Homo sapiens: one gene and its partners. The protein of the gene in region 2 interacts with the protein of the main gene of each other region in a biochemical or structural test. Each region holds a gene or a part of one and is shown on either strand. Other genes may lie near its edges.

Region 1 (7,813 bases), on a different chromosome or scaffold from region 2:
TGTTAGGGTACATCATTGAATATCCTGAATTCTGACTGTCTGGCTGTCAGAATGTAACTAACTGCTTTTTTTCTTTTGAAACAGAGTCTCACTCTGTCACCCAGGCTGGAGTGCAGTGGCATGATCTTGGCTCACTGCAACCTCTGCCTCCAAGGTTCAAGCAATTCTCGTGCCTCAGCCACCCAAGTAGCTAGGATTACAGGCATGTGCCACCACGCCTGGCTAATTTTTGTATATTTAGTAGAGACAGGGTTTCACTATGTTAGCCAGGCTGGTCTCAAACTCTTGGCCTCAAGTGATCTGCCTGCCTCGGCCTCCCAAAGTGCTGGGATTACAGGCATGAGCCACCGCGCCCAGCCAGAATGTAACTAACTGCCTTTTAGTTTTACTGCCTTCCACACTCAAAGAGTTATTAGTTGGCTCTACATATTTATTTATTGTGTAAATATAAGTTGAGTTCAGAAGAATCTTTTTTTTTTAAACCATGATTGTAGAAGTGGTTTGTGACTTTATAACAACAATTATCTAATTTGTTTTCCTAATTAATGAAGGAACTGAGCGAAGATCTTTCTCACATTAATTATGAAGCATATACCTCCGGCTGCATTTTTGTTTATTGTTTTGACTTCTGTTAGATATTTATTGCCCCAGAGAAAATGAAACCATTTGTTGTTTTAGAATAGAATTAGTGCATATTAAGGTTCTGCCTCCTACACTGTGGTCGGCAAAGGCAGTAGAAAGAATACAAGGTGAAGGGCTGGGTGTCCTGGCTTTTAATCCTGGCTGTGTGAACTTGGCCACGTCACTTCCTCTCTCTGGGCCTCAGTTTCCTCCCAGAAAATATGATGATTGGCCCAGGGGACTTTAAGCATTAAGATTGTTTGAATTGGCTGGGCATGGTGGCTCACACCTGTAATCCCAGAACTTTGGGAGGCCGAGGTAGGAGGATCACTTGTGTCCAGGAGTTCAAGACCAGCCTAGGCAACACAGGGAGCCCCGGTCTCTACAAAAAAACAGAAAATTAGCCAGGCATGGTCGTGTGCTTGTAGTCCCAGCTACTCAGGAGGCTGAGGTGGGAGGATCACTTGAGCCTGGGAGTACAAGGCTGCAGTGAGCTATGACTATGCTACTGCACTCCAGCCTGGGTGACAAAGTGAGACTCTGTCTCAAAAACAGCAACAGCAACAACAAAAGACCATCTGAATCTATATTTTTTAAAAAGCTATTCTAAGGCATATAAAATAGATTTCCACTAAGTTTTTGTAAGAGCTGAGAAGCAGCCTGATATGCCCCTTTGAGCCTGAAAGACCTGTCTGGATTAAAATCCTGACTCTGCTACTTGCTAGCTATGCTTCCACAAACGAGTTTCCTAATTTCTTTTGAGTCTGGGCAACCTGAATATTGTGTGGGGCACAGAGGAAGCCCCAGGTTCTCGTCCTGACTCGGCCACTGGGTGACCTTGAACTTCATCAATGGATAGGACTGCCTTTCCTCTTCCCAGGGCCACTGTGACCATCAGGAGAGAGTGGCTATGAAGACCAGAGGGCACCACGGGAGTGTGAGATAGCATTATTGCTACTAACATCTAGAGAACCTGGGTTAGGACAGCAGAGAGACAGAAGCTGCCAGCATTATACAAGGCAGAAGCCTCAGGGCCACTGCTCCTGACCGCAGATGGAGGATGTACTGAGGCAGCCCCAGGGCCTGTGGGGTGTGGACCTGACCCCTCCCAAGGCCTGCCCCTTCCCCGGGGTTCAGGGCCTCGGCTAGTCTAGGCAGGCGAACTCTGAGATGCAGTTAAGAATCTTCCAGGTGTGGATCTGGTTGTCCAGGGGTCAAGGGTGGGACGGTGGCTTTTTACCTATGACATATATACAGTTGTCTCTCAGTAGCCATGGGCGACTGGTCCCAGGACTCCCCGAGGATACCAAAATCCGAGGATGCTCAAGTTTCTTACATAAAATGGCGTGTTATTTGGATATCACCTATACACATCTCCCGTATACTTTAAATCATCTCTAGGTTACTTATAATGACTAATACGATGTAAATGCTATGTAAATAGCTGCTATGCTGCATTGTTTAGGGAATAAACAGTACAGATGCTTTTTTTTCTGAATACTTTTGATCTACTGTTGGTCAAATCACAGCTGCAGAACCCTTGGCTATGAAAGGCCGCCTGTAGATATTTGTCCCAACTGTATATATCCCCTTACTTAAATAATTACTATTTATTAACAATTAACATATGTATCTCTGAGCCTTGTATTTTACCTATTAAAAATAAACTACAAGAGAATCCCCCAGGTCTGCAGGCACTGACTGTCAACACAGCCGCCTGCATTCATGCCCTAAACTTCACACCAAACCTCTGCTTCCAAGGCTGGGGAGGAGGAGGAGAACACAGGGGTGAGGGGAGGACTGGGCTTGGGCCCAGACAATGCTGCCCAAATCTCCTCCCAGACCCCAAGGCCGCGCACTTCTGTCTCACTGGAACAACATGACACTTCCAAAACTGATCCTTCTACCTCAATCTGTGCCCCACATTGCCGCCAGAGGGATCTTTTGAAGGTGTGCGTCTCCCCTCCTGCAGCCCTTCAGTGACTCTCCATGACCATATAATTCATCATCCTAGAGCAGCACTTGTGAGAGTGAAGGAAGGGGCTACTAATCATTAGGCCAGGACAACAGGCACAGAATGGGCATGCCTCAGGCAACCCAGCATCTAGCATCACCCTATTATGAGGGATCTGGGCCCTGCCTGCCTCTCCACCCCACTACTTGGTACTCTAAACTCCAGCTGGTATCCTTTTCAATGCCTTAAACACATCCTTAAACAGCACCTTTTGCCTTTGCTTGAACCCTTCCATTCCTCATAACCCCCTAGGGCCTCCATCTCACTGCTCCTACTCCTCTTTTATGTCTGAATTGAAGCAGCCTTTCCTTAGCCTAGACCAGGACAGGGCCCCTGCTGTGTGTTCTCACAGCTGGCTAGGCTTGCCCAACATAACGCTCGGCACACGTCACTTTCCTTGTTTCCTGCCTCCCATCCCACTGCCGACACCGCCTGCCTGCCCTCTGTGCCCTAGGCACTCACTAAACACCTACTAAATGGACGGGTGGATCAGCAAAGGATGAATACATCCAAGCCCACCACTCGCTAGCAGTGTGACCTTGGCCAAGTAACTTGACCTCTCTGAGCTACAGGTCAGTCTCTAAAATGGGGATAAATAATATTATCTCACTGGAATATTATAAGGATTAAATAAAACATGGGAAATGCCTGGCACACAGTAGGTGCTCAGCTAGTGTTCCTGGAATGTGATGGGCAGTGAGTGCCATTCATTGGGCACCAACTCTTTATTGCACTGGTGTGTCACTAACATGCTGTCCGCTAGGGCGTATCTTGCCTGGTAACTGGCTGACAAGCTCTTGAAGGCAGGGATCTCACGTGAAGCTTCTCTAGTCCCTGCTTTCTCATCCAGCTCTGCTCATGGCAGGCACTTGGTGCTGGAAATGAGGTATGTGGCACTTCATCCATCTTGAAGGCTCGTGTCTTAGAAACTTCCTGAAGATTCCCAGCCCAATGTTGTAGCACCATCTCTTCCAACGGGCTCCCAGATCCAGGAATCTAACTCTAATCTACAATAACCATTCCCTGCACTGGACACTCACAGCCTGGAGGTAGATACACGGCCCCATGCTGTCTACACCCATGACCACAGAATAGCTCTCTGCTTGTTGCAAGTGTGAGAAGATGCCCATAGACCCTCCAGAGTCCAAAAACACCAGGCCAATCTAGCCTTGTCTCTCCAGCTCCCACAGGAGGACCGTGTCTGCTGCTTCCTGTGTGCCCCCAGTGTACCCAACACACGGATGCACATTTAGTACATGCTTAAAAATACCCGTTGAATCAATTAATGAACAAAAGAGCAAACAAATGAATGAATGCCAATATAGCAGAGATGTGGGCAAATTACTCAGCCCCACACTTCCTTAGTTTCCTTATCTGTAGAAAGAGACTAATGAAGGTACCCACTTCATATGGTTATTATCCCAATAAAATGAGATAATGTACATACAGCATTCAGCACAGCACCCAACTTTACAAATAGTGGCAACTATTGTTAGTTACTGTGTACTTACAGAATAGGACCCGCCCCTATGTTATTATTATACATTATCGTTATTATTATTCAGCAAAGAACCAATGATTAGGGGTGGAAAGACCAGAGACTCCTGGCCTGCACTGATTAGCTTTCTGGTCATGTTCCCTCACTGCCAGCCACCATTTCTGAGATGCAGGGAAGCTCTGAGAGGCAGGACTTGGGAGAAAAAGAACAAACATCCTGCTTGGCACATTCCAAATGAAAGGGCAGGTAGGGCCAGGAGGAAAAGCAACCCCTGGCTGACCTCTACATGCAGAGCTGACCTCTTATTCCCAGAGGTAGCAGCAAAGAGCTTGGAGGTCACCTTCAGTGGAGCTGAGGGGCTGGCCAGATGGCATGCAGGGCTGGATAAGACACCTGCAGCTAAGGGAAGGAGCTTTTCTCTGTGCAAAGTTAGCCAGGCCAGAGGCTGTGTCCAGTGCCCACATGCAGGATGTTACTACCTAGCTTCATTGGCACCCACCCTAGACGACTTTGGTAGCCACCAGGGAACCAAAATAGATAGTGGCAGTCCTGGGCCATCTGGGTCAATCAGCACCAAGGGTCTAACCTCAGTGGAGGGGAATTTGGCTCCTCCTTCCTTCTTGGGCTTCCAGGGGTTGTGTGGGCAGGAACTGCTGAAGGCTGCCCTTGGTTGTCTTGGTTCAGAGATTGGGGAGGAAACAGGAGGTAGGAAAGAGCAGAGGGGCCAAGGCTGCTTTGGCAGCTGCCAGCAGATGCTCATTGACTACAGAGACATCTGATGGCCTCTCCTGGTCCAGAGTACACAAGCTCACTCCAAGGAATGGCAGGCCTCCCCACCCACCCGGTCAGCTCACCCGCTGCAGAAACTCCGTGCGCTCCTTCTTCTTGTTCCGGCATCGGGCTGCTGCGACTTTGTTCTTCTCCCGGCGCCTTTTCCTTCGCTCCTCTTCCTCATCTAGCTGTGAGGGCACAGAGCCACTGATTAGACACTGAGGCAGGCTTGGAGTACAGTTTCTGTCCTGACACATAGACAGAGGGACAACTTCGCCTTTCTAACCCACATCTCGGCAGTGAACAAGTGATCACTTCTGCCAGCCCACTGCCTGGAGAGTTGGAAATACCTCCCAGCCAGTCCAAGGATCCTCTCAGAGCATCCCAGGGAGGAGTCAGTAGCCCAAACGGGCAGGGATTCTGCTCTGGTTTGAATGTGTCTCCCAAACTTCAAGTGTTAGAAACTTAATCCCCAATGCAACAGTGTTGAGAGGTGACACCTTTAAGAGGTGGTTAGTAACAATATTAATGAATGGATTAATGTTGTTATTAGAAAAGGGGATTTGTTATAAAAGGAAATTTGGCCCTTTCTTGCTGTCTTGTACTCTCTTGCTTTCCCACCTTCTGCCCTAGGATGATGCAGCAAGAAGGCCCTCACAAGACACCAGTACCTTGATATTGGACTTCACAACCTCCAGAACTGTGAGAAATAAATTTCTTTTCTTTATAAATTACTCAGTTGGTGGTATTCTGTGATAGTAACACAAAATGGACTAAGACAGATATCCAGGTTCAGATGTCCTGAGGGAGAAGCAAGCCCAGAGACTCAGGAAGCCCCTCGCTTCTGCCCCCAGGGTCCCTCAGCTCTCCCACAGGTGGACATTCTGGGGGAAGAATATGCAAAAGCAGAGAAAAGGATTAAAGCCAGATGAGGAGTTCAGGAGGCCAGGAGCCTGGCAAATCTACTCACACAGAGGTGGCACCCAACGGGCGGTGACGACCTTTTCTTTTGCCCAGCCCAAGCCCTCTGGGTACAATTTTCCAGGCCAGTGGTTCCCAGGCACTTCCTTTAAAAACGTCTTGGGCATGGACACAGGTTCCACATTCCACTGCCACCTTCCCACCTCCTTGACTATCTTTGTCCTCTCCTCTTACCTTCTGTTGGGATTTAAGATCTTCCCCGCTCCTCCATACCCAATGTTCCTTTCTTGGCCCTTTCCAAATGCTGGGATCCATTTCCTCTTGTCACTAACAGTCTCCCCAGCCTCCTCATCTGGCTTTAATCCTTTCCCCCAGGATGCCCACCTGTGGGAGAGCTGAAGGACCCTGGGGAACAAGCAAGGGGCCTCCTGAGCCTCCGGGCTTGCTTCTCCCTCAGGACATGTTAATAAACTCACCATGCGTGAAATACGACCCCTGGAATGGGGGAGAAGGAGACTCACTGCCCACTAGCACAGACTTCGAATCAAAGTTGCTGTTGTTATTGCTCCATTAGTAATAATAACAAGAGGTGCCATTTGTTGCCTACTTTGATAAATGCTTTAAACACATGTCATTTAATCCTCACCATCAAAGTCTTATGAGGAAGTTACTATTACTGTACCATTTTACAGATGGTGAGACTGAGGCTCAATAGTTCAATTTGCCCAAGGCCATACAACTACAAAATAGCAGATTAGGATTCAAACTCAGATTTCTCTGGTTTCAAGCACCCTGCTCCTGACCACCAGCCCTTACAGCCCCAGTCCATCAGGAGCACTTTGATGTGGCACCTCTTGCTGCCTCTTGCCTACCTACCTGGTAGGTGATCTACCAGGAAAATCTGAAGGACACCCAGGACCAGCTGGGCTGGGGACAGACCAGAGTCATAGGCCATTAGAGAAGCCGTTGGATTGTCCTGGGCTTGCCAACTCTCTCACTTCTCCAGCCAGGGAGGAGGGTGTGGGGGGTGACTCTGGCAGCCCAAGGCCTGGAACAAGGTCTCAGCCCAAAGGGCTATAGGCCAGGAAAATAAACAGCCTCTCTCTGCACACTCCCAGCATGCTCTGGGGGCTCAGGACAGAGCGCCTGGGCCCGAGACCAGCACCATGGCCATCGGCACAGGCCTTGGCAGGGCAGCCCCCTTTCTGCCTCCTCACCACCTCTGAGCTTCTCCCTGCCCCACTCCCACCCCACCTGGGAGTCAGCTGCAGAGGCGCCTCGTCAACACCGCCACACCCAAGCACCTCCCAGTCCCTTGGCCTTCTTTGAAACTGAACCAGAAGTGACAGCTCCTCTGGCTGACCTGCATCTGGGAAAATAGAAACCTGGCTGAAATTGATTCCGCCCAACCTTAACCTCACCCCCAACAAGGCCAAGGTAACCGTGACGACAGGCAGAGGGAAGGAACTGGAGGAAGTGGCTGGCGGTGCAATCTCCCTTCGGCCAGGAGGGTTTGCCCACAAACTGCCAAGGTGATGTGTGCAGCCTGGGTACTGCAAGGCCTTGTGTCCTCCCCTGAGCAACCAACCTCTGCCCTCCAAGGCTTCAATCCCTACCCCCATCCTGCACAGGGCCTTATTCCACAGAAAGTCAGAAGCAGACAGAAGCTGCTTTAGCAGCAATGCAAAAAGATTCAGAGCTGGAAGAAAGTTTAAGAGATCAACTGGGCCAGGCTGAGGCCCAGGTCAGGGGCCGCTCCTCCTCCCCTCTCCAGCCACGTTCATCCCCTCCTGCATCACCCTCTAGTCCAAATGTCTCACCCTTCTCCAAGCCAGCCAGGCCCTCTCAGCCTTGAGTGAGATATCCTTCCTTTCCCACTTGGTAAACTCTTAACTGAACCTCGAGAGTAAACATCACCTCCTCCAGGAAGGGTCCTTTGACTCCCCAGATAGAATCAGCTGCTTTTAGCTAAAAACAGAAATACTATT
Region 2 (7,813 bases):
GAGTCTCAGTCCCGTGTTACCTGGGAGCAATCTAGGGCTGAGTGAGCTGGAACACCTGCCTAGCCCACACTGCTGTGAGAAGGGGACTCAGGAGCTCTCCAGGCTGGCAGGTCACTGTGCTCTAAGCTATAGGAGGTGCGAGGCAGGTCTGTCTTGCTCATGGCATCTCATACTCCAAGGACAGGAGGACAGGAAGCTGGTCTTTGGGGCACTGTGAGCATTCAATAAACCTTTGTTGATCTGATTCCCCACAGTGCTGCTCCATTTTACTGATATCTAAAGGAAGATCCTTTCTAAAGATTAGCTTATTTACAGTTTGCAAGAGGCTGAAACAATTCCACTCAACATTTAGGGGGTACCTTTATGCACGAAAGTGGTAAGTATAGCAAAAGATATGCCATAGTCAGCTAGCAACCAGTCTTGAAACAACATGTACTTCACTATTTGGGGGAGAAGCGCGAGCAGTGAGTCCATTATCTATATTACAAGTCACAGTGCGGTAAGGGCCATAAGCACAATGTAAACAAAATCAAAAGGCAAAAGAGATCCTACCCACTGGCAGGGGCAGAAGACAAGGACGGCTTCAAGGAGGAGGCGGCATCCGCCCTCAGACTCTTTTGCCAGAGATGGACAGTAGAGCCACAGAGCTCAAACTGACTGTGTCCAGACACAGCGAACTGCTGAGCTTGGCTAGCGGGGTACAAGTGCAAAGGATTAGAGACAACTCAGCAAAAAGGCAGGCACCCACTACCACCTGCTTTACGGAGGGTGGCTGTTCCTCTGCTATGCCGTCAACACACCAGCAACACAGTTACTTGCAAGCATGTACTGAGCACCCGCTGTGGATGGTGAGGTACCATGCCAGGACACTCGCCTGCCCTCAGTGAGCGCACACTCAGGAGGAGGCCCTGCACACCAAGGGTCCTAAACCCAGTAGGGTGAAGAAGATTTGGGGGAATGGGAGGAGAAGCAGCAGAGGCGGAGGCACATTCGGAATGTGACAAGTCACTAGGGACTTGCTGGGTAGAGGGCGAGTGAAGCTGGAGAGAGAAAAGGAGGCCAGATCACTATGAGCCCCAGAAGCCACGCAGAGCCGTCTGGCCTCAGTCCTGAGGGCTGTGGAAGCCGTCAAAACATCAGAGGTGCGACACAGGCGCTGAGGTGCTCCAGGATCCATCCCTCCCTTCCTCGCTTTCATAAGAGAAGCCTTCCTTCCCCTTCCTGCTAGATAAATGGCTGCCCAACTAGAGACGACGCCTGGCAGCTTTCCCAGCAGCCAGGTATGGCCAGATGACCAAGTTCTGACTAATAAGATGTGGGTAGAAGTGATGTATGCAACTTCCAGATCACTTTTATTTTTCTTTACAGAAAGCTGCTTGCCCTCCAATCTTTCTTCCTTGCTGCTGGCTGAGGGATCAGCTGTCACAGACCCAGAGATGGAAGTCACATGCTGTAGATGGAAAGCTGCCCACCAGCTGGATTCCTTAACTACCTCATGGCACAGAGCCACCCCCCATTCAGGACCCCGTGTCCACGTTGGGACTGACAGATCAATCTCAACCCTGCTGACCAACTCTGCAACTCTCCCTGCTATAACTGCTTTCAACCTATATTTGGACTATGACAATATTAGGTTAACTTTTTTAAATTTGGGGAGTATATTCACTCATATTAGGTTTTAGAATTGTAATTCCATCTCAAGATTTAAAATAGTCCGGGCATGGTGGCTCACACCTGTAATCCCAGCACTTTGGGAGGCCAACGTGGGGGAATCACTTGAGGTCAGGAGTTTGAGAACAGCCTGGCCAACATGGTGAAGCCCCATCTCTACTAAAAATACAAAAATTAGCCGGGTGTGGTAGTGCGTGCCTGTAATCCCAGCTACTTGGGAGGCTGATGCAGGAGAATCATTTGAACCGGGAGGTGGAGATTGCAGTGAGCTGAGATCGTGCCACTCCAGCCTGGGCCACAGCGAGACTCCATCTCAAAAACAAACAAACAAAAAGATTTAAAATAATTATAAAATTAAAATAAGGTACCCTTATTATGCAGGAGAAAAAAGTCACCTAAGTGAAAACCTGTTAAAGCCACCTTCTCTGTCAAGTTTGGGCTTTGTGAGAGCAAGAGAAAGAAACTTAAGGCCACCTGAGAAGGTGTGTAATTTAGCTATTCATGAGTCAACTCTATTGAGATGATATTTCAACAAAATGGACCATCAACTGGGGCTCAGAAAACAGTTTTACAAATCGGGAAGTACAAGAATTCTTCATGAAACCACATTAGCAATACACTAAAGCCTGCATTCGCTGCCTCCACTTCCCACACCAGCCGGTGCTGGTTCCTCCCCCTCAGCTCCCAGGCTGTGCTGCCACCATCCGTCCAGCACAGGGCTCCCTCCTTGCCACTTGTGCACTCAGCAGCGCCCGCCAGGCTGCACTGTCACAGCCTTTGTAGGGTCTGCCTCCCTTCCAGGCTATGAGCAACTCAAAACTGGGAGGGAACGCTACAAGGAGGTTTCCTGGAGGAGGCAAGACCTGAGCTCAAGTTTGTTCACAGTATCGACCGAGGCATGAGGAAACAGGCACTTTCATACACGTCAGTGAGAGCTGAGAAGTGGTAAAACATTTTTTTAGATGGAATATAGATCTGGCTAATAAAAATGTTAACTGCATATCCTAAACTGGCAAACACAATTCTCTAAGTGTATCTGACAAATACGTGTACAAGTATCCAAACATATTTGTGCAAGCATGTTTGTAACACTTCTTGTAACAGGCAAAAAACTAGAAGTAATCTAAAATGCACACTGTGGATGGACTGAATAAATTATGGCACAGAAGTACAACAAGGCCATTCAACAGAATGCAAGGACTTTATGTATCAATGTGGAAAGATGTCTAAGATACAGAAAGGAAATACACCAAGTTGAAGAAGAGAACACATAATGCCCAGCTACGTAAACACACACACACGCATACACACGCACATACACAATGCTGGCAAGTAGAGAAATAGTGGGAAATGAGAAACTTTCTTCCCATTATAACTTTCTATTCTGTTTTTCAAATGTACATATTTCACATTTAAAAACTGATTAAACAACACATGTTAAATGAAAAGCTGCAGAATGATCATTTGACACTTGTATGGAAGACGGGCTTCAGGCAGATAAGGCTAGAGGCATGAGAGTGGGCCTGGCTCTGAGGTACACATTTATCAACACCCTTATAACAACTAGTGAGAAGCATATTACTATCCCCGCTCTGCAAATGAGGAAACTGAGGCTTAGAGGAAGTTGTCCAGTAAGGAAGTTGTCCAAATTCCCAGCATGGCTCAGATTTGAATTTAGGAGTGTTTCACCACAATATTCAAGTTCCTCCCAAAGCACCATTCTGATATCCCTTTAGAAAGTGAAGCTATTTGCACATGGGCTGGCCAGGACCAGCACACAGTCCTGCACATTTCACCTTGCTGACTCCCCCTACCAAAACCTACCAAAACACTTTTTCCTCTAACGATGACAACGATTCAGTGATCCACAGACTCAAGTGAACCTTTCATCACACTAAAGCTTCAGAGTACCCAGGACATGCGATATTTAAATCAACTAACTATTGTGATTAAAAGCAGATTCTCACAATCACCCTCTGTCTCAATGCTTGCTGCCGACATTTTTTTCATTAAATTGTTCTGTTTTCCAGCTGGGCAAGATGGCTCACACTTGTAATCCCAGCACTGTGGGAGGCCGAAGGTGGGAGGATCACTTAAGCCCAAGAGTTCCAGACCAGCCTGGGCAACATGGTGAGGCTTCAACTCTATATTAAACAATAATAATAATAATAATAGTAAAAATCTGGCCGGGTGCGGTGGCTCACACCTGTAATCCCAGCACTTTGGGAGGCTGTGGCGTGTGGATCACGAGGTCAGGAGACGGAGACCATCCTGGCTAACATGGTGAAACTCCGTCTCTACTAAAAAAATACAAAAAATTAGCCGGGTGTGGTGGCGGGCGCCTGTAGTCCCAGCTACTAGGGAGGCTGAGGCAGGAGAATGGCGTGAACCTGGGAGGCGGAGCTTGCAGTGAGCCAAGATCACACCATTGCACTCCAGCCTGGGCGACAGAGCGAGACTCCGTCTCAAAAAAAAAAAAATAGTAAAAATTTAAAAAGTTCTATTTTCCTACTGTAATTCTTTATTCTTTCTTTTCTTTTTTTTTTTTTTTGAGACGGAGTCTCGCTCTGTCGCCCAGGCTGGAGTGCAGTGGCATGATCTCGGCTCACTGCAAGCTCCGCCTCCCAGGTTCACGCCATTCTCCTGCCTCAGCCTCCCAAGTAGCTGGGACTACAGGCGCCCGCCAGCACACCCAGCTAATTTTTGTATTTTTAGTAGAGATGGGGTTTCACTGTGTTAGCCAGGATGGTCTCGATCTCCTGACCTTATGATCCGCCCGCCTCAGCCTCCCAAAGTGCTGGGATTACAGGCGTGAGCCACCGCGCCTGGCCTCCTACTGTAATTCTTATGAAGAATAGCTTGGTATAACAACGTAATCTTTCTTTGATAATCAAGAACCTTGCAGCTCTCAGGGCCATCCTCTGTAGTTCTTAAGCCACAGTATATACCACAATACAGAACAACTAGCATTTGGTTATCACTTCACCCACTGTTGGATCCATAGGACCCTGCAAGGATCTCCGTCACCAGCCCCACTTCCAGGCACCCAGGCCTGCCTATTTCCCTCTCAATCCCCCACTCCCAGGGCCCTGGGTAAGGGCTTCTCGTGGCTCCTTGGACCAGCGACAGCAGAAGCATTCTCCCAGCCACCATTTCTGTGACTTCCGAACCACTGCACACATGCCACTTTAGAAAGAGAAATCACTCCACGTGAGAATATGTACACAAATGTTCACAGCAGCTTTATTTTTAATAGTGCCAAACTAGAAACAACCCAAACCTGTCCTTCAATGGGTAAATGGTTAAACTAACTGCTGTATACCCATACCATGGAATACCACTCAGCAACTGCTGAAACATACCACAACTTGGGTGGATCTCAGGGGCAGGATAGTCAACGAAAAAAGCCAATCTCAAAAAGTCACATCCTGTATAACTCCATGCATATAACATTCCTGAAAAGACAAAAGTATAGAGATGCAGACTAGATTAGTACTTGCCAGCAGTTATGAATGGTGGGGAAAAGGGGCTGCTGTGGCTGTAAGGGGGTGGGACAAGGAGATATCTGGGATGATGACATAGTTTTGAATCTTGATTGTGGTAGTGGTTATAGGAATTTTCACACGATAAAAAATGACAATGAACTCTATACACCTTGCTCCGATGCCCAATGTCCTGGTTTAGACATTTTACTACAGTTGTGTAAATATGTAACCGTGGGAGAAAGCTGGGGGAAGGGTACTGGGACCTCTCTGTGCCATTTGTGCAACTTCCTGTGAATCTATAATTATTTCAAAATATGGAAAGAAAAAAGAGAGATTTGTTGAAAGTGTGCAGTGATCACACCATTCTCCCATTTGAACTCCTTCAACAGTGACTGACTGCCTGGAGAATAAGATTCAGTTCCCTAGCACAGCACAGGAGATGGCAGTCCTCTGGCCCAATCTTAGGCAACATCAAACCACCTGGGATCAGCGGACACACCCAGCTACTGCACACCTTCAGGCCTCTGCCTAAGCTGTTCCATCTGCTTGAAATGACTTCCCTCCCCTTTTTGACCTGCTGGTCAACATTCACCCTCCTTCAAAAATCTAGTTCAAGCACTTGCTTCTCTTACATGTTTCCTCCTCCAGCCTTTCCCTTCAAACCATGCTGGGCATGCCCCCATTTTTGCCACCCTCCCAGTATTCGCTTTAGATTGCATTCCGAGTCTACTTACACTTCTACTCTGTAAGGGCAGAAAATGTGTCTGATTTATTTCTCAATCCTCTACTGATTACACAGTGGGTGCCCAAAAAATGTTTGTTAAAGACAAAGCTAAATGGGAGAAAAAATGCGGTAGGGCAGCTGGGAGCAGTGGTTAAGATCGGGACTTTGACTTCAGACTCCCAGTGGGTCTGCTATTTATCTGGGTGATGTGCAGCAAGCGATTGCACTCATCTGCAACACGGACGAGCAGAGAGCCTCAGGGTACCTCTAGATAAGAAGTGCACAGCCCACTTAGGAAGGCATCTTGATGCAGGAATGCACCCTAAATCTGACGAAGCCTCGTCTAGATCCAATTACTAACTTACAGAGATTACAGAGAAACACATTCAATTACACTGCAGAGATGCAATCAATCAAATACCAACTATGGAAATGCTAAGGAACAACTCGATTGCTTCAACAAATAAACTACCAAGAAAACAAAGAAATAGGAGGGGGATCTATGGATTAAGAGAAACTTAAAAGACGTATCATCCAATCAACAACGTATGGCCTTCTCTTGCTCTACTTTCAAACTATTAAGGAAACCTAAAATTCATGGGGCAGCTGGAAATTTGAATATTGACTAGTTATTTGATGATATTAAGCAATTATTACTTTTTCAACTTTAAAAGAGTCAGTACCTTTAGAGACCTACCGAAGTGTGAAGTATAACTACTGTACACCTCCTGAGCACCCTGAGGTTGTGCCCGTATGTTTTACAGATGAGTGCAATCGCTTCTGCACATCACCCAGATAAGCAGCAGACCCACTGGGAGTCTGACTCAAAGTCCTGATCTTACCCACTGCTCCGAGCTACCCTACCACATTTATTCTCCCATTTAGCTTTGTCTTTACCAAACATTTACTGGGCACCCACTGTGTAATTAGTATCCCAAAAAATAATGAATGAAATGACATGATATTTAGGATTTGCTTGAAAATAATTATGGGTGGTAAGGGTGCAAGTGGATACCATTAGAGATGAAACAAGATTGGTCAGGAGTTAATAACTGTTAAAGCAGGACACTATTCTGTTTATTTTGTATATGTTTGAAAGTTCCCATAATAAAAGTTAAAATAAAAAGAATGATGTTGAAACTGGTTCATACAATCAAGTACAAAGTATCAGGAATTAATTATTCTGAAGGAAAATTATGTAAAAATGGCACCTTCCTAACCAAGTGTGAGGTGTAACTACTGTATGTATGTAGACCAAAAATAGTTGCCCTATTGGCAAATCAATAGTCTCAAGAAGAAAAAAAATCTGGTCTCTGTTTTATCTTATGCCTCATGAAAACAACTGGTTTACTCGCTATTAACTGGTTTGTCTGGTCCTTTTCTTTATCCAGAAAATTAAGAATATTTTATCTTAGACACATTCAAGTATCCCCTCTGTTGTTTATTTACGGGACCAAATAAACAGATTTTAATCTGTGAACAAATTAAAGTCCTGGCACCCTGAAAATTAAATTGCCAGGAAAATCAAAGCTGTCAAAAGAGAAGTCTATGCAAAAATAGTATTGTTTTTAACTCTGCAGGATCCTTTTGAAGAAAAAAAAAAGTTAAATGGAGGAAAACATTAAATAGATTGGTGGTCATTCTTCCAGAACAAGTTAAAAGCCAAAAGAGAATACTCAGAGCTGAGGGACCCAGGAAAGAATCCTTATCTGGGAAGTGATCTGGGTTCGAACTCCACTCACCAGCTGCTTGCTAAGAAACAGACTACTTAGACTCCTGAGCTTCCGTTTCCACAGGGCTCCAGTTACAATCAAATGAGTATCTGGGCTGGCACCTGGGCAAACAGGGCCTGGCTCCCCTGGCCTTAGGCTACCTTTCCTGCTCTCCTCACAGCTCCTCCCTCCCACACAGCCAGTCCTGGAGGATGACGATC
Region 3 (7,813 bases), on a different chromosome or scaffold from region 2:
GACAGAGGGAGACTCTGTCTCAAAAAAAAAAAAAAAAAGAAATGACCTGAGAGCATAGGGTCTTCGAAAATCTAGTAATCCAAGCCAGTTTTTTCAGTATTCCATAGAATGATATCATCCTTCCTTTTATATGTAAACAAAGTTAACGCAGTGACTGACTTTTAATGTCCAATATAAAATCAAGATGACAGTATTCTGGACTCAGAATGTCAGAGCAATGGCCAGGAAAGTTCTTTCACAGGGCGATCAACAGGCTTTTGGTAACTTTCACAACCCATGGACACTTTCCTGCTGAGTAAAGTAATACATTAAATCCAAACCTCGGCCGGTGCAGTGGCTCCCGCCTGAAATCCCAGCACTTTGGGAGGCTGAGGTGGGCAGATCACGTGAGGTCAGGAGTTCAAGACCAGCCTAGCGAACATGGTGAAACCCCATCTCTACTAAAAATACAAAAAATCAGCTGGGTGTGGTGGTGGGCGCCTGTGATCCCAGGTACTCAGGAGGCTGAGGCAGAATCGCTTGAACCCGGGAGGCAGAGCTTGCAGTGAGTAGAGATCACGCCATTGCACTCCAGCCTAGGCGACAGAGTGAGACTCCATCTCAAAAAAAAAAAAAATCCAAACCTCTCCTCTCATACGTTTGTTAGGCCAGGCTCACCAGCGAGAAACAATTCAGCTCTGGCTGGTTGGTTAGAAACGAATCTTGACACGAATCAAAGATCTCGTTCTTGTGCAATACCGATCAATTTATTTCCTTCCCTGGGAATGAGGGTGTAGTATGAATTTCCAAAGGAAAAACGCTCATTTTTGGTCTTTTATCTTAAGCAGGCAGACAGGTGCCGGGCACGTGCCTGGCAGATGCCCTTCATGGCTAGTTCCCAGGTACGGGCAGGGACCTCGCATGGCTGTGGTTACCCTGGGCTGGCAGGGGGCAGTCAGAGCTCTTTCCATTTCCCACAATTGCCTGGCCACCTAGGTCTAAAATGCAGAGAGAGGACGTGCAGGGGGTGGCTCTGGAGTTACAAAGCTGCCCCTGAAGCCTGCTGGACGGGACACGGGTCGAGGGAAGGACATTTCTCCATTCAGGTATTACGTGTGGGGCTGAGAGAGCTGGCCACTAGCTCGGGACTCCAAAAACCAGGTTGAAAAGCAAGGCTTCCTCACGTTCTGTGAAAGGGATGGCTGGGTTCAGTGTCCACGTAAAACAAATCCCAACTGGTTGAATACGAACTGATTTCAAGAATGGGTAAGACAGATGGGAAATAGATATATATATATTTCCCATCTGTCTTACTAGTACATATACATTTGTATTGGGAAATATATATATAAATTTATATGGTTGGTACCAGCGGAAGAAAAATGAAGATAAAACCAAAACCTCAAGTTAAGTGTCCCATCCTATGAAACATCTCCCTGGGAAAAATTATTCTCAAGTAAACTTTTATTCTCTGGTGCATTCTTAGGAGTTTACATTGGCTTCTGAAACTTCCTAATCAGCCCCAACCTCCGACTCCCTCTGGTTCCACTGAACGAGAGGCCTGCTAACCGTGCCTCAGTTCACTCTTCTCAGTAGCCAAAGGGTCCCTGCTCTCAAAACATGAATGCTCTAACCCGAGGCAGGGACATAGAGACACACGTGTGCAAGGGCCCACTGGGACTGTGCGTATATCTGGGAATTCATTTCCTGGGGAGAAGGAAAGGTGATGGGCAGGCTGGCTGAGGAAAGGTTAGGGAACAGGAGCCCCAAACTCCCCAGAGGCCTGGGGAGGAAGGGGCCCCCCGAAACTTTAACAAAAGGCAAGTTTTGAATCTGGTTGTTGATAACAAGAATTGAAATGTCCTAGACCCTGTGTGAGAAACGCACCACACGGAGGAGAGGTCTTGAGGAAAGGCCCTGTCGCGTTTCACGTGGCACGCCCTGGATCTCTTGCCGTAACAGTGGCTCAAAAGAAAATGCACCAGAGTAATGATGCTGTGGGCTCTAAGGGTCTCCGCAAAGACGCACCCCCCTCATAAGCGGATTCTAGTCTCTGGGTTTCACTGCCAGCCTGCCCCAGAGCAGTGCTTGGCCCAACACCCTGCCAACGGGGTGAGCGGGCTTACAAACCGCTCATGCGTGAAGGTTACGTAAAAACAAGCCGCCCAGCTCCCCTGCAGGCAGGCGGATGGACAAACGGCACTGCTGGGACCCTGCTTGGCCATGGGGGAAGGACACACACAGCCTGGGTGAGTCCCCGAATCACTGTACCGAGTGGAAGATGTCAGAGGAAACCACGTACGCACTGCAGGAGGCCATTATGCAAAGCTCTAGAAGATGCAAATTAACCTACAGTGACTGAAGGCAGGTCAGTGGTTACCTGGGGACAGGTGGGGCAAGGAGGGGTCGGAGGGGGATTACATAGGACACAGGGAACTCTGGGGTCCGGGCGTCTACGCTGCTTGGACTGCAGGGATGGCTTCTGGTGTTTATACGTATTTCAAAACTCATCAAATTGTACTCTTTAAGTATGTACAGTTCAGTGTATGTCAATGATACTGCAATAAAATTGTTACCCACAGAAAGAAAACAAAAAGCAGCCCAAGGCGAAAAAGTCGATCCTGTGCCCTGAGCACAGGCAGTCCTGAGGTGCGAGCGGTTTCCCACCAGGCTCTTCTTGGCCTTTCGAGAACTTCAGCCCCTCTCTGCTGTTTCCTGTTGCTGGCATCCACTTTCCCATCTCACAATATTTTCTCCTGTCTGGTCTCCTGTATCTGAAACCCACTGCTACGGGATCTCCCCTCTTTCTGGAAAATGTTCATTAAACAGGAAACAAACCCACCCTTTAAGCATCTTCCTTTCTTGCATGAAGCTGAGTAACTCACCATCTGCCCTTGCTTCCAGGCAGCTCAGCTAGACTGCCCACAGCCACACTGTCCAGTATGGAAGCCCTGGCCACATGTTTACATTAATTAAAATAAAACACAGCCGGGCATGGTGGCACGAGCCTGTAGTCCCAGCTATTCGGGAGGCTGAGATGGGAGGATTGCTTCGGTCCAGAAGTTTGAGACCAGCCTGGGCAACGTGGCGAGACCTCATCTCCGAAACAAGTAAATACAACTAAAAATCCAGTTCCTCAGTTCCATGAGTCATGCCTAAAATGCTCAACGGCCCTATGTGGCCAGCAGCTACTGAAGTGGACAGCACCAAATACAACATTTCCATCATCCCAGAACGTTCTGTCAGAAAGGCTGCTCCAAAGAGACAGTCCTTGACCTTCCGGAACTGCACAGTTTGGTGAGATGTGTGCAGAGACAGAGGAAAGCCGGCTTCCCTTTATCCACACACACAGATGGCCAGCATCTCCGGGTGTGCCGAGAAAAGGAAACAACAGGCTCAGGCTGAATGAACCAAAGGGTGCCGGCCCCTTGTTGGCAGGGAGCAGCTTAACTTGCGGAAGCCGGGAGAGAGGCCTGGTGGGGGCCCAGCTCCCCAGGCAGGGGCGGCAGAGTGGGTGATGGGGGCTTCTCTGCAGGTGCACTGCGGAGGCAGACACCAGCGAATCCGGCAGAGACGGGAACTAGCCAGATAAACCCCGAGGGAGGGGTGGGGGCAGGTGGTCTAGGAGGCAGGAACTGCAGGTCTGCAGAATGGGGGGCAGCCAGAAGACCAGAGGCAGATGAGGCTGGTGAGAGGTGGGCCCAGTGGGGGGCCACCTGGGGAAGACAGCCTCACTCTGTCCACCCAGTGTCCTGGCCCACCTTGTCACTCAGATCCCCTCATGTTATCACCACCTGAGATGTCCAGTCTGCCCCAGGAGAGCAATCAGCTAATCCCCCTGCCTGGAATTCACCCTAGCACTCAGAGACCAGATATGCTTTGTGAGGGTTCTCTGGGCTGGCAAAGTGGCGGCGGTGGGAGTGGCCGGGAGACCCTGGGATGGTGGTGACTGGAAGCAGAAGGCAGCAAAGGAGATGAAAAGTGGGGACATTAAAGAACTCCTGAGGCTGGCCGGGCGCGATGGCTCATGCCTGTAATCCCAGCACTTTGGGAGGCCGAGATGGGTGGATCACGAGGTCAGCAGATCGAGACCATCCTGGCTAACACGGTGAAACCCCATCTCTACTAAAAATACAAAAAATTAGCCGGGCGTGTTGGCGGGCACCTGTAGTCTCAGCTACTCGGGAGGCTGAGGCAGAAGAATGGCATAAACCTGGGAGGTGGAGCTTGCAGTGAGCCGAGATTGCGCCACTGTACTCCAGCATGGGTGACAGAGCGAGACTCCATCTCAAAAAAGAAAAAAAAAAAAAAAAAAAAAGAACTCCTGAGGCCAAAAGAACACCAGGACCTAGTGGCGGCTAGATACTTGGGGTGACAAGGGGAGCTCGGGACCTCAGTTTTCTTTTTTTTTCTTTTTTTTTTTTTTTGAGACGGAGTCTCCCTCAATTGCCCAGGCTGGAGTGCAGTAGCGTTGCAATCTCGGCTCACTGCAAGCTCTACCTCCTGTGTTCAAGCGATTCTCCTGCTTCAGCCTTCCAAGTAGCTGGGAGTACAGGTGTGCATCACCATGCCCAGCTAATTTTTGTATTTTTAGTAGAGACGGGGTTTCACCATATTGGCCAGGCTGGTCTCGAACTCCTTACCTCATGATCCACCCGCCTCGGCCTTTCAAAGTGTTGGGATTACGGGCGTGAGCCACTGCGCCCAGCGTTGGGACCCCAACTTTCAACAGGGCAAAGGAAAACAAGTCCGGAGAGCCGGCACCCCATGCAGCTCCTGGGCAAGCTTCTGTAGTGATTTTCATGCACTAACAGCTCATCCTCCAGCCCTGGTAATAAATGGGAACCTGGGAAAGGGGCCCATCCAAAAATCTTGTGCCCCTCACCTGATGCCCATCTGGCACAGATTAAGGATCTAGGAGGCTCTGCATGCCATGGGTCTTCCTGCTGAGGCCTGAGGACATGCTCCATATCTGGTCCCCAGGGCCCATGAGCCAGACTGAGGCACAGCTGCAAAGTGACTGAACTGTGTTGTCGCAATGGTCAAGGTCAATAAGAGCAGAGAACGAGGGGCCACCGCAGAACACAGGACACAACAAGGACACAGGGACCCCTGAGCCCCTTACACAGCCAGAGAAAGCAGCGTGGGAAGACGCCTGCACTTGGGAAGCTGGGTGAGGAGTGTTAATTCTGCAACCTTTCTGTACATATTTCAAAATGGTTTTTAAAAACGTAAAAATGAAACAGATATTTCATTTAGAAATCTTAATTTTGGAAGAACTGACTTCTCTCAGCTCTCGGCCCTGTCTGACTGCTGCCAGCGTGGCCCGGGGGCTCCCGCAGCGGAGCGGCAGAGGGGCAGGCTGCGCCCAGCGGCCTCCGGGCCACTTCGGCCTCTGTCCCGTGTTCTCTCTGGCTGGCAGGTACCTCCTTCTCCATGGTTCCTACATGTATTTGCTCCACTTTTTAGGGAGACTGCTGTACTCCTGGTGAGTGGTACAGCTACACCAGGCCAGCTTTCAGAGGCACCTAGGAAAGGCAGCTCTGGCAGCCCCATCTTGATAGCTTCATTTAAAAAACATTTTTTAAAAAACTGTTCTTAATATCATAACATGGCAGGAAAAGAAATCGCATACTCTGGCCAAGCAGTGGTGGATTTACTATTTGTCATATGAAAAACAAAAATAAAAATTTCTGATTCAGCATCTTAATTCATTGATGGAAAAGACTTCCTGCAGATCGTCTGGCGCAGAGGAGAAAAAAAGAAGGAAAAATGGCAGACTGATCATCTCTGTAGAGCGGGATTATGGTGTTTGTTTTCTCCAGCTGAATCCTACCCAAATAGTCTATGAAATGGATGACATTTATTTATTTATTTTTATCTATTTATTTATTTTGAGACAGAGTCTCACTCTTGTTGCCCAGGCTGGAGTGCAGTGGTATGATCTTGGTTCACCACAACATCTGCCTCCTGGGTTCAAGTGATTCTCCTGCCTCAGCCTCCCGAGTGCTGGGACTACAGGGGCCTGCCGCCACACCTGGCTAATTTTTTTTTCTTTTTTTTTTCTTTAGTAGAGACAGGGTTTCGCCAGGTTCGCCAGGCTGGTCTCAAACTCCTGACCTGAGATGAGGAGGTCAGGAGTTCAATGTCAAATGTTGGGAGGCTGAGGTGGGAGGATTGCTTGAGTCCAGGAGTTTGAGACCAGCCTGGGCAACATAGCGTGACCTCATCTCTCGCCTGCCTCAGCCTCCCAAAGTGCTGGGATTACACATGTGAGAGTCGCTGCGCCTGGCCGGTAACTTTTATTTAACTCGGAAAAAATAAGTTTTGGATAAAACTGTCTTCCCTTGCATCCTTTCCTTACATAGCATCAAATGCCGAATGATCAGCAAACATCACCATCTGGGCTTGTTGAGAGAACACCCACTCCAGCTGCCTGCCATGAGCCTGGGGGGTGTTACCAGCAGCAGTTTCTTTAGGGTTAAGAAGATTTTAAGGCAAATAATGACCACTAATATTCACATGTCATCTCTCACACCTTATTTTTCCTCTTGTAAGCTAAGCAGTTGATCACTATGGGAGAAGGGCTCTTTGCTGCCCGGGTAAGCCCGGCAAACGTGGTGGCTCTGCCCGGCCCTCCTCTGGAGCTGCACCGGACGGTGCGTGTGGAGGCAGCATCTGCTCCTTGCCAGCCCCCACCCCGTTCAGCTGCTGTTTCCCACCTTCTTCTTTTCCACTGGGAAATAACTTGAGGGTTTTAAAAAACTTTGTATCAGAGCCTGCACAACCAGAAACTGCACTGTCTGGTAGGCGGCTAGCAATGTCCGGTGCCTGCCGTCCACGGCGGCCCTGAGAACCCGTCAAGGGTTCTGCCCTGACTCTGCTACATCTGCCTGCCCACAATTCTCCAGGCAACCAACAGCCAGTGATGGTGCTTGGATCTTGAGATGAAACTGACTTGCAAAGTCCGCGGCCACTGCAGCCCAGCGAGGGGAAGAGGATGGACCCAGGGTGTGTGGCTCCTGAGGGCCGGGCTGACACTCAGGCTGGGGTCTGCAGACTCCACGGCTTGGGTCAGTCTCTCGGGAGACCCCACCCTCTCTAGCTCCTGTCACTCTCATACACTCAGCTGCCTGTTATCAGAGCACATTGGGAGTCACTGTGGTAATGACCGGCAAGAAGATGGGAACAGGGATGTCTGCTCTGCTCAGGTTTTTATAAAACCCTGCGGATTCTGTCTGCTCAGAAGCTGCAGTGGCTCAGGTTACCCATCTCTGACTAAGCCTTCTTGAGCAGAGTGGCTGGGGACGGAGCTTCTGCTGACAGCTCACCCAGGAGCTCCTCTGCAACAAGACACGCCTGCAGCGTGTGACGTCCCGCTCCCCTCTTATCAGACACACGTCTATGTGATCACAAGTCCCTGCCTAGAAAAGACGCCGACCCACAGGGCACAATGGTCTACAAAGTTGGAAATGAAGGTCTGCTTGATTCAGTAGAGGAGTAGGCATGCCAAATGTTGACAGCATCGAGCCCTCTTCCTTAGTTGTAAAGCCCTGAGGTCTTTCCAAGGGCGCCCCGTTAGCGTTTAATCATAGCCTCCATGCTGGCCAAGCATTGGCTGGCTTCGGGGCTCGGCTCCCGAAGCTCTCGGTGCAGCTTCTCTAAAGCGCTGGGGCAATGGTGGGTCTCAGACTAAAGGTGATAGCTTTGCAAACCACACGCACACCCGCCAGCTTGGTTCAGCAGGAGCCCTGGGGGAGGGCAGATGCACTCACAGCAGCTTGCATGTGAACCGCACAGAGCTGGGCAGCGCCTATCCTGTGCACAGCTCATT
Region 4 (8,733 bases), on a different chromosome or scaffold from region 2:
GGAGGCTAAGGCAGAATTGCTTGATCTCAGGAGGCGTGGGTTGCAGTGAGCCAAGATCATGCCACTGCACTCCAGCCTGGGCGGCAGAGTAAGACTCCATCTCAAAAACAAAAAAACAAAAAACAAACAAACAAAAAAACCAGAACCACCACAACAAAAAAATCCCAACCAGGATCCTTTCTTTAACTGAAATTTTACTTTGGAAGCCCATGAATAAGACATATATCTATCCATAGCTATATCTGCATCTGTCAAGTGTGAAGGTGTGGAGGACAAGATTGTGGTCACAGAGGCTCCACCAGTTCACCCCTGCTCCCATTTCTATTGCCTCCCACTTGCACTGATGTCTTTTACCCTTTGTATATAAAGTTTTCAAGATCCAATGTGTATTTTAATCTTATGGCACATCTTAATTCAGACTAGCCACACTTCGAGTGGCCGACACATGTGTCAAATGACCACCACACTGGAAAATACAGATATAGAGCCTTAAATGGCTCAGAGCCTTTTCCTGAGTCACAAGCACACCTGCCCATGAATTTTGTAGGAAAGAACTGCAGGCCTCTTGTGTCCAAACTCATAGATAGTGGGACAAGCACATGGCCCTGCCTCTGTTTCCATCATTACAGTAGCCACTGTCTTAGTCCAGTTGTGCCGCTATAACAAAATACCTGAGACTGGGGAAGTTGTAAGGAACAGAAATTTATTGCTCACATGAGTTCTGGAGGCTGGGAAGTCCAAGATCAAGGTGCCATCTGCAGGTTCACTGCCTGGTGAGGGTCCAATCTCTGATTTCAAGATAGCACCTTGTTGCTGTGTCCCCACAGGGGAATGGAAGAAAACTAACTCACTCCCTGAAGCCCTTTTGTAATGGCCCTAATCCCTTCCATGAGGCCTCTGCCCTCATGACTTAACCACCTCCAAAAGGCCTCATCTCTTAATAGTGTCACACTGGTGATTAAGTTTCAACATGTATTTTGGGGGAACATTCAAACCATAGCAGCTCCTTCCTTCAGGGAACACTTCTTATCAGCCCTTCCCTAGGCCTGGAGAGTGTTGCTGGATGTTTTGCCAGGCTGGTCTCAATGACCTCAAACACTTACCATGCCACTTTCCTATTCCTCAGCTTATTCCCCACTCCTTCTGGTATAATATCATCTTTATCCTGGATGATTTTTAAGTTTTCTCCAAGCCATTCTCTGCCTTAATTCTAGTACCTCCAGAAATCTATCTTGACCTTGAGGATTATTTTGAAGGCCCCACCTTCTGCCATTACCCCACACACTTAACCATTTAAGTGCACAAAAAAGAAGTAATTTAATTAATACATTTGCTAAATACTATCCATATTATATCTTATATGTTGGCCTAAGTTATTGTCATCTTTTGACTTTAATACATAGTACTTCAGCTGAAACAGTCAATATTTTTCTTATGATGTTTGTGGGAACAAAGATATGCTCAATACAATCATGTTACAACATCCAGACTGAATGAAGATGCTTCACTCTTTCTTTGGGACTGAAACTAACATTAACGCTCTGCTGCTGGTTATTGATATACAGATCAGATTTGTAGCCATTGGCTGACTAGCATTACGAATTTAAGTCTCAGGGCATTATATTTCAGTGTAGTATTTTCACATTTATCGCTCAAAAACAGGAATAAAATCACTTCTTCTTGTCCAAAAGATGTTCTGAAGAGTAGTGAATGGAAAAAAATTCCATCTATAATCTGATTTTTTTCACCAGTCTTATGACTTGAATATAAACTTAGAGATGCCTAACTTAAAAAATAACTACAACTTTGCTTATATTCATAATCTGGTAATTATTCCACATTTCAGGCTTGATATATGATAAGGAATTTTGCCATCTTTCCCAATGTTTCAGCCTGGATGGCTTAGATTCTTAGTCAACTAAATTATAATAATCTACTACTTTGAAACTATAATAAAACAATCATCTCATTACAAGAGTTACATTTCTTCTTGAAATTACTTTTCCATTTTGGGCCTTGTGGGAAAAGCTGTTAAGAACTCTTCTGCAATTGTATAAATCTATACTTTGGGCTTAGATGTTGAGGCATTAGAAATGAATTCATCATTTATAGATCATATATACCTTTAAAGATAGGCACCTTATTTCCTAAAGCAAGTAAATTAATTTTTTTTTCCACTGAATGCCTTTTATCAGCAGGGGATCTTTTTTCCCCCCTGAGCGCTTGAATGAGTTCCCTTTTTCTTCTGAGTTGGGGTATTACCATTCTATGGATAAATGAAGACAGAGACTGGATGAACAGATATAACAGATAGAGTCAGAATCAGAACTTAGAACTCTCAAACTCTGAGTTAATGAAAAATTTTCCCATAATTGTCTATGTTTAGGGAAAGGTAAGCTTTCAGCCTTCCAGCTCCAGATAGATCAAGGGTAGAACCTCTGGGAAGTTCTTTTCTGATTTGTATAGAAATTACCCAGAACCCAAGTTTCCTGACCATAACCTGTTGATCTTCAAACATTTAAGAACCAAATGGTGTGCCCTAAGCACTCTGCTATTATCAGGAGGGTGAATTGACGTGTGTGTTGGTGTGTGGATGGAGAGAGGTGTAAACCAAAAATAAAATTCTAAGCACCCCCCACGCCCCACCCCCTGCCCACCCCGCCTTCCCAGGCAACCCTCTGAACGGACTAATTTGTCAACCAGGGCTCTTGTAAAATTTATCCTGAAAGACTGGTTCAGGCCATGAAGGGATGTGAGGGTGGGACGTGCCCCATTCATTATATATCAACCAACGGACTAATTTCTCAACCCAGGCTCCTGTAAAATTTATCCTGAAAGACTGGTTCAGGCCATGAGGGGAAGTGAGGGTGGGATGAGCCCTGTTATATATCAACATGGAGTTCAAGTCTGATAAGAAACATTTTACAACCTATTGTCTCTGAACCTGCTGCCTGGAGACTTCATCTGCATAATAAAACTTTGGTCCCCACAAGCTCTTATCTTAACCCATACGTTCCTTTCTTTGATCTCAGGTCTTTAGACAAACTCAACCAATTGTCAACCAGAAAATGTTTAAATTTACCTATAGCCTGAAAGCCCACCCGCTCCTTAGAGTTGTCCAGCCTTTTTGGACCAAACCAATGTATTTCTTAAATGTATTTGATTGATGTCTCATGCCTCCCTAAAATGTATAAAACCAAGCTGGACCCCAACCACCTTGGGCACGTGCTCAGGACCTCCTGAGGGCTGTGTCACAGGCCATGGTCACTCATATTTGGCTCAGAATAAATCTCTTCAAATATTTTACAGAGTTTGACTATTTTCGACAACAGACGTTACACAAAATCCTCTCCTATGTAAGACTATCGGATGTGTACGTGATGCCCGTCGTAACACTGGTGTGAAAAGCTGGACTGGGGGGTATGTGCCTGCATGTAAGTGGAGGTGCCCAAGGGGATTTCTCTTCACAGCTCATTGAGCATAGCTGACTTGCTAGCTATGGTCTGACACCTCCTGATTTCAGATCTGCCCTGAAAACAATTACATGAATATGCCCCTGCTACTCAGTATACTACTAGGCTTGGAGTCTGAAGTAGACCTCCAAACCCCATCCAATCAGGTAAGGGAGAAAAACGATAGCCCAACATTCCCTAGTGCTCATAATGTATTATTCCATTATTTCACTTTTTATCCCTTCTCTCACAGATAAGAAAAGAAAAAGCTCTACTTCTTTAGGGTTCTTGGACGTAGACTCTCCACAGTTCATCTGGGGTTGTTCATCTCCACTTCTTTTTGTATCCCAGGGCAACTTTCCTGCAGTTTCCCTAATGAGAATATTTTCCGGACTAGGCAAGGGGCGGCTTGCCCCGCCCCCTACTCTTCTCCCTGATCAGGAGCTGCGGCCAGCTACCTGGCGCCGGCCAAAGTCAGGGGAGCGGGGAGAGGCGGCGTCACCTCCTCCACGCTCCTCCGGCCCCATTCAATCTAGCTATTTGCACTCGGCTCTGGCTCTTTTCCGCCAGCTGCGGCTGTTCCAGAAGCGCCGGGCTGCCGGTCCTGGCCTCGGCAGGGGCCGTGCGGGACCGAGGGGTGGCGGCCGAGGCATGTGGGGCGGGTGGGTTGCGCGCTGCTGGCACGGCGCGGGGACCCAGCGCGCCAGGCGGGAAAGGGGGGCGGCGGCGGGCGGGGACCCAGACCCGGAGGGGCAGCGGGCGCGTAGCGGGCCCCAGGACGCCCGGCCAGGGGATTGGCCTCTGCACCGCTGCTCAGGGCGCGTCCCTTGCCGCCTCTGGCGTCGACTCAAGCCTCCTCCTCCGAGCAGCCCTCAGTGGCGCCGCCTTAGTGCTCTGGGTCGAGCCCCGGGAGGGTTAGCCTGGGGACGGCAGGGGCGTGACCGTGGCGCGGAAGTAGGTGAGCAGCAGGGCGGCGCGCGGCGGTCAGGCCGGGACAGCCAGAGGGGCAGCGACATCTGCGGGCGGGCGGGCGGGAGGCGGACGCTTCCCGGGCGGAGCAGGGCCCTCCGGAGGACGCAGGCCGCGTCGAGGCTGAAGGGCCTCCCTGTCCGGGACGGTCAGCTGCCAAGTTCGGGCCCTTAGCGCGTGGCCCCGGGCCGCGGCTCGGAGCGGAAGCGTCGCCCCTGGCTGCGCGCTCATGCTGGTCCTAGCGCAGAAGACCCGGCGAGGTCCGCGAATTTTGGCTTAGCGTTTGTCAAGTCACCTCGAGCGACTCGGAGAGAACCCGGCTTTCCCACTAGGGACGGTGATCGCAGTCTCTTTCCTTTAGAAAGTTACTCCGATACTTTTGATCATCTGTCCATAGTAAGGAGGAAAAATAGCGTGGTTTGTCCCCGGGTGAGGGAGTGTTGGAGGATCCCGTCCAGTGGGAAGAGCCAGTTTTAGCGGAGCAGCGCGTCCAGCCCGCTGACACTTCAGCCTGGTAAAGGGTTAACTGCATCCTGCCGGTTCGGTTTACATGTAAATAGAGAGCAGCTGCTCCGCGCGGCCCCGGCTGGCTCTTTTAAGTTTTTGATTGGTTGCCAATGACATCACCGCCCGTGTTTTAACACCGAGGACCCAGAGCAGCTTCGGATAAACCCTCCTTAAAGAGATGAGGCCACGCCTTCTTACCCGCCCCCTAGGCTGCCCATTGGTCGCGGGGCTCTGTGAGGTAGCGGTCGGCTTTCTCCGGATTCTTATTGGCCCAACCCGCCGTCGGTCGGCGGCGAGTCCGCCCCCTCAGAACCTTACATTTACAGTGTAGCAAAAGAGAAAGTAACTATGTTGCTGCTGGAGATCAATGAAGCCGAGTGAATGGGGGCTGAATGTGCGAGTCCATAGCTGAAGAGGAGCGCCAGATGGTGGAGGAATACACTTATTTATGAAGTAAGTGGAAGTCACCGCGACTACTCCTGAGAGCCCGGGACTGGAGGTGGAGGATTGTAAGGCGGTGCTTGTGTGAGTGTGAGTGTGTGTGTTTGTGTGTGTGTATCTGTGTGTGTGTGAGAGAGAGACAGAGACAGAAAGATAGAGATGCGATGCTGACGGAGGAGCTACAGCAGGTAGGGTTATAAGGTTCCGGCCGTTGGCTCCTGCTACCCTGTGCGTTTACTCCCTGCAGTCTACTTGGATTTGGGGCGAAGAAAAAATGAGGTTTGTTGGGATGCTTTGCGGCAGTTTTAAATGCTCGGGGCTCATTAGTGCGCTGTGTGCCGAGGAGTGAAGCGGGGGGCGGGGGGATGTTAAGTGCTCCAGGAATGGGGAAGAAGCATTCTCTAACCACTTAATTTTCTCTCCAGCTCTTGCCTAGTGGTGGAAGGGAGAGGGGATAGCTCAGTATTTCTCTGGGAGATTTTCTGGGCCAGACTGGATGGTTTCACGGGCAGTATGTACGCCCGACCCTCTGCTGCAGGGATGCAGGTCTCTCTATACACTCCGTGTGTGTGTGTGTGAGCCTTGAACTCTGTGTGGAGGTGGGGGTCCCAGCGCGTGTCTCTGTGAACACGCTTATGCGTCCCTCTCAGAAGAAATGGTATGTTGATCCTGGACGTGTCCTACCAGGTAACACAATAGCAAAGACTTTCACCGCTTGGTCCAACCGGGAAACAGTTATAGCTTCTGGAATAGAACTCGCTCTTCAGAAAAAATACTACGCAAGGGAAGGGGGGTTGACTCCTTCGCTCCCATCCAAAGGTGGGTGAGAGAAACCCGAGTCGTTGGAGATCTGCCGACGTGATGGGTGCGTGCCCCGTGTGCGCGCGTGAGTGTGGATTCCGCCTGTGACACTTTGGTTCTGTGTCAGAGAATGGTGACGGTCGTGTGTAGACGGATGAGAATGGTGACGGTCGTGTGTAGACGGATGATAGATGGCATTTTTCCTGATAGCTCTTAAAGTTCGTTTAGGTGAGCGTCTCTTGGCGTGGGGTTTGGCGTCTTTGCTATGTGCATGTCTAATAGAAGAAGAAGAGTTAGCAAGCCTGAGTTGTAGAGTGCCCCTGTGCCTACAGGAGGAAGGAGCTGTCTTTTTGCAGACACTCTGAAATCAGAGATAGATCCGGTGGGCAACAATTCACTGTCCCTTTCAACGAGTACAGGCTAATTGGGAGGTCCTCTTTACGGAATCAGTACTCTTGAAGGGGGGATATCTGTATGGGATTGAAACCTTATACAACGTGGCTGCCTCCCATTGAGAGAAGCTCTAGGATGCACAGTCTGTGCCAGCCAGGGAGATGAAGAGGGGAGGAGAGCCCAAGTTGTCCTTTCCAGGCAGGAATGAGGGCGGGGGCAGGTGAGAGAGCAAAGGGTGAGGGATTTGCCGGGGCTGGGGTTTCCAGGTTTCCAGATCTGGCTCCATGGCTTGAGATTTCGTTTTAGGACACCAGTTAGTAGTGAAAAGGGGAAATGCAGATTAATTTATAAGAGGCCAAAAGACAACATGTGAGGTTTTAGTATGACTATGTTGTGCTTTTCAAAGGACCCCAATAGAGAATGGAAGGCAAGAATAGCTCCAAGTTAAAGAGATTCACTTAAGGGGATTTGCAGAAAGTTGACATCCACCCTGATGTATATTTAGCTGCTGTACCTTTCTGTGAACCATGCCAGTGCTCTTGGTTACCCCTTTGCCTTTGCAGCGAGTGAGGGAATTAAATGGCAAGCATGCAAGGGTGGACAAATGGGTCTTTCTCAGATGTTTGCAGTGTACTTCTGCCCGAGAGCTGAGGTTCAGAATAGATGCCTCTTAAGAGCCTCCCTTCTGTCTTCAGCTTTTCTAATTATTTGTGCTTATACCTTCTCTACAGCTGAACTTTTATGTAGGTCCAGGAAAGGTTGTTCATTAACATTTACAACATTACATCCAAATTTAACCTTAGACTTAGCAACCAAATTGATTGGAGCCCTCAGGTTTGCATCCTCTTTGAATACATAAAAATGAATTTCAAGTTTTGATAATGGTATGATAAAGGGCAATTAGGACGACTTTGCTCAGAGGGATGCAAAGGTCTTTCCCAGGGATTGGATGAGACTGCCTTTTGTGTCACGTGACTTTATTCTTTCTTTCCCCCTTCCCCTTCTTTACAGACTGTCTTGAGTTCTTCTTGAATTGCCAGTTTTCAGCCTCCTCATGCCTCCGTCTCCTTTAGACGACAGGGTAGTAGTGGCACTATCTAGGCCCGTCCGACCTCAGGATCTCAACCTTTGTTTAGACTCTAGTTACCTTGGCTCTGCCAACCCAGGCAGTAACAGCCACCCTCCTGTCATCGCCACCACCGTTGTGTCCCTCAAGGCTGCGAATCTGACGTATATGCCCTCATCCAGCGGCTCTGCCCGCTCGCTGAATTGTGGATGCAGCAGTGCCAGCTGCTGCACTGTGGCAACCTACGACAAGGACAATCAGGCCCAAACCCAAGCCATTGCCGCTGGCACCACCACCACTGCCATCGGAACCTCTACCACCTGCCCTGCTAACCAGATGGTCAACAATAATGAGAATACAGGCTCTCTAAGTCCATCAAGTGGGGTGGGCAGCCCTGTGTCAGGGACCCCCAAGCAGCTAGCCAGCATCAAAATAATCTACCCCAATGACTTGGCAAAGAAGATGACCAAATGCAGCAAGAGTCACCTGCCGAGTCAGGGCCCTGTCATCATTGACTGCAGGCCCTTCATGGAGTACAACAAGAGTCACATCCAAGGAGCTGTCCACATTAACTGTGCCGATAAGATCAGCCGGCGGAGACTGCAGCAGGGCAAGATCACTGTCCTAGACTTGATTTCCTGTAGGGAAGGCAAGGACTCTTTCAAGAGGATCTTTTCCAAAGAAATTATAGTTTATGATGAGAATACCAATGAACCAAGCCGAGTGATGCCCTCCCAGCCACTTCACATAGTCCTCGAGTCCCTGAAGAGAGAAGGCAAAGAACCTCTGGTGTTGAAAGGTAATGCCCCTGCTCCCTTCCCAAGCACGGTCCTGATTAGCCGGGTTCACTTTGGGTTTTCTCGTAGAGTGACAGCATTCTCCTTACCCTGGCTACCAAAGACCAAAATAGACTTTATTCTTCTCTTCCCTTCTATGCTCTTTATTGTTTTGGTTTAGTAAGAAAAACCCAGCAGCACTGAACTGGAAGCCAGAAGATCTGGGTTCTACCCTTCATTTGGGTTCTAATTTGCATTGTGCAAGTCATTTCACCTCTCTGGGACTGTTTTCTCATCTTTCTAAAAAGGGGCTTTATACACACCAGAT

What was found.
Region 1: of the proteins of MAPK9 (region 2) and JDP2, one has a biochemical effect on the other in vitro, tested with the Homo sapiens proteins (one study listed by BioGRID).
Region 3: the proteins of MAPK9 (region 2) and MAPK8IP3 form a complex in vitro, tested with the Homo sapiens proteins (2 studies listed by BioGRID).
Region 4: of the proteins of MAPK9 (region 2) and DUSP10, one has a biochemical effect on the other in vitro, tested with the Homo sapiens proteins (one study listed by IntAct).

Annotation. Positions count from the first base shown.
Region 1 is NC_000014.9:75,458,705-75,466,517, reverse strand, and holds part of JDP2 (jun dimerization protein 2), read right to left. Parts: intron 5,093-7,813; coding exon 4,988-5,092; intron 1-4,987. UniProt on the Homo sapiens protein: Component of the AP-1 transcription factor that represses transactivation mediated by the Jun family of proteins.
Region 2 is NC_000005.10:180,281,942-180,289,754, forward strand, and holds part of MAPK9 (mitogen-activated protein kinase 9), read right to left. Parts: intron 5,127-7,813; exon of another isoform or gene 5,034-5,126; intron 1-5,033. UniProt on the Homo sapiens protein: Serine/threonine-protein kinase involved in various processes such as cell proliferation, differentiation, migration, transformation and programmed cell death.
Region 3 is NC_000016.10:1,708,536-1,716,348, reverse strand, and holds part of MAPK8IP3 (C-Jun-amino-terminal kinase-interacting protein 3), read right to left. Parts: intron 2,821-7,813; exon of another isoform or gene 2,562-2,820; intron 2,348-2,561; exon of another isoform or gene 2,158-2,347; intron 1-2,157.
Region 4 is NC_000001.11:221,738,629-221,747,361, reverse strand, and holds the start of DUSP10 (dual specificity protein phosphatase 10), read left to right. Parts: upstream 1-5,272; 5' UTR 5,273-5,381; intron 5,382-7,574; 5' UTR 7,575-7,617; coding exon 7,618-8,428; intron 8,429-8,733. UniProt on the Homo sapiens protein: Protein phosphatase involved in the inactivation of MAP kinases. Has a specificity for the MAPK11/MAPK12/MAPK13/MAPK14 subfamily. It preferably dephosphorylates p38.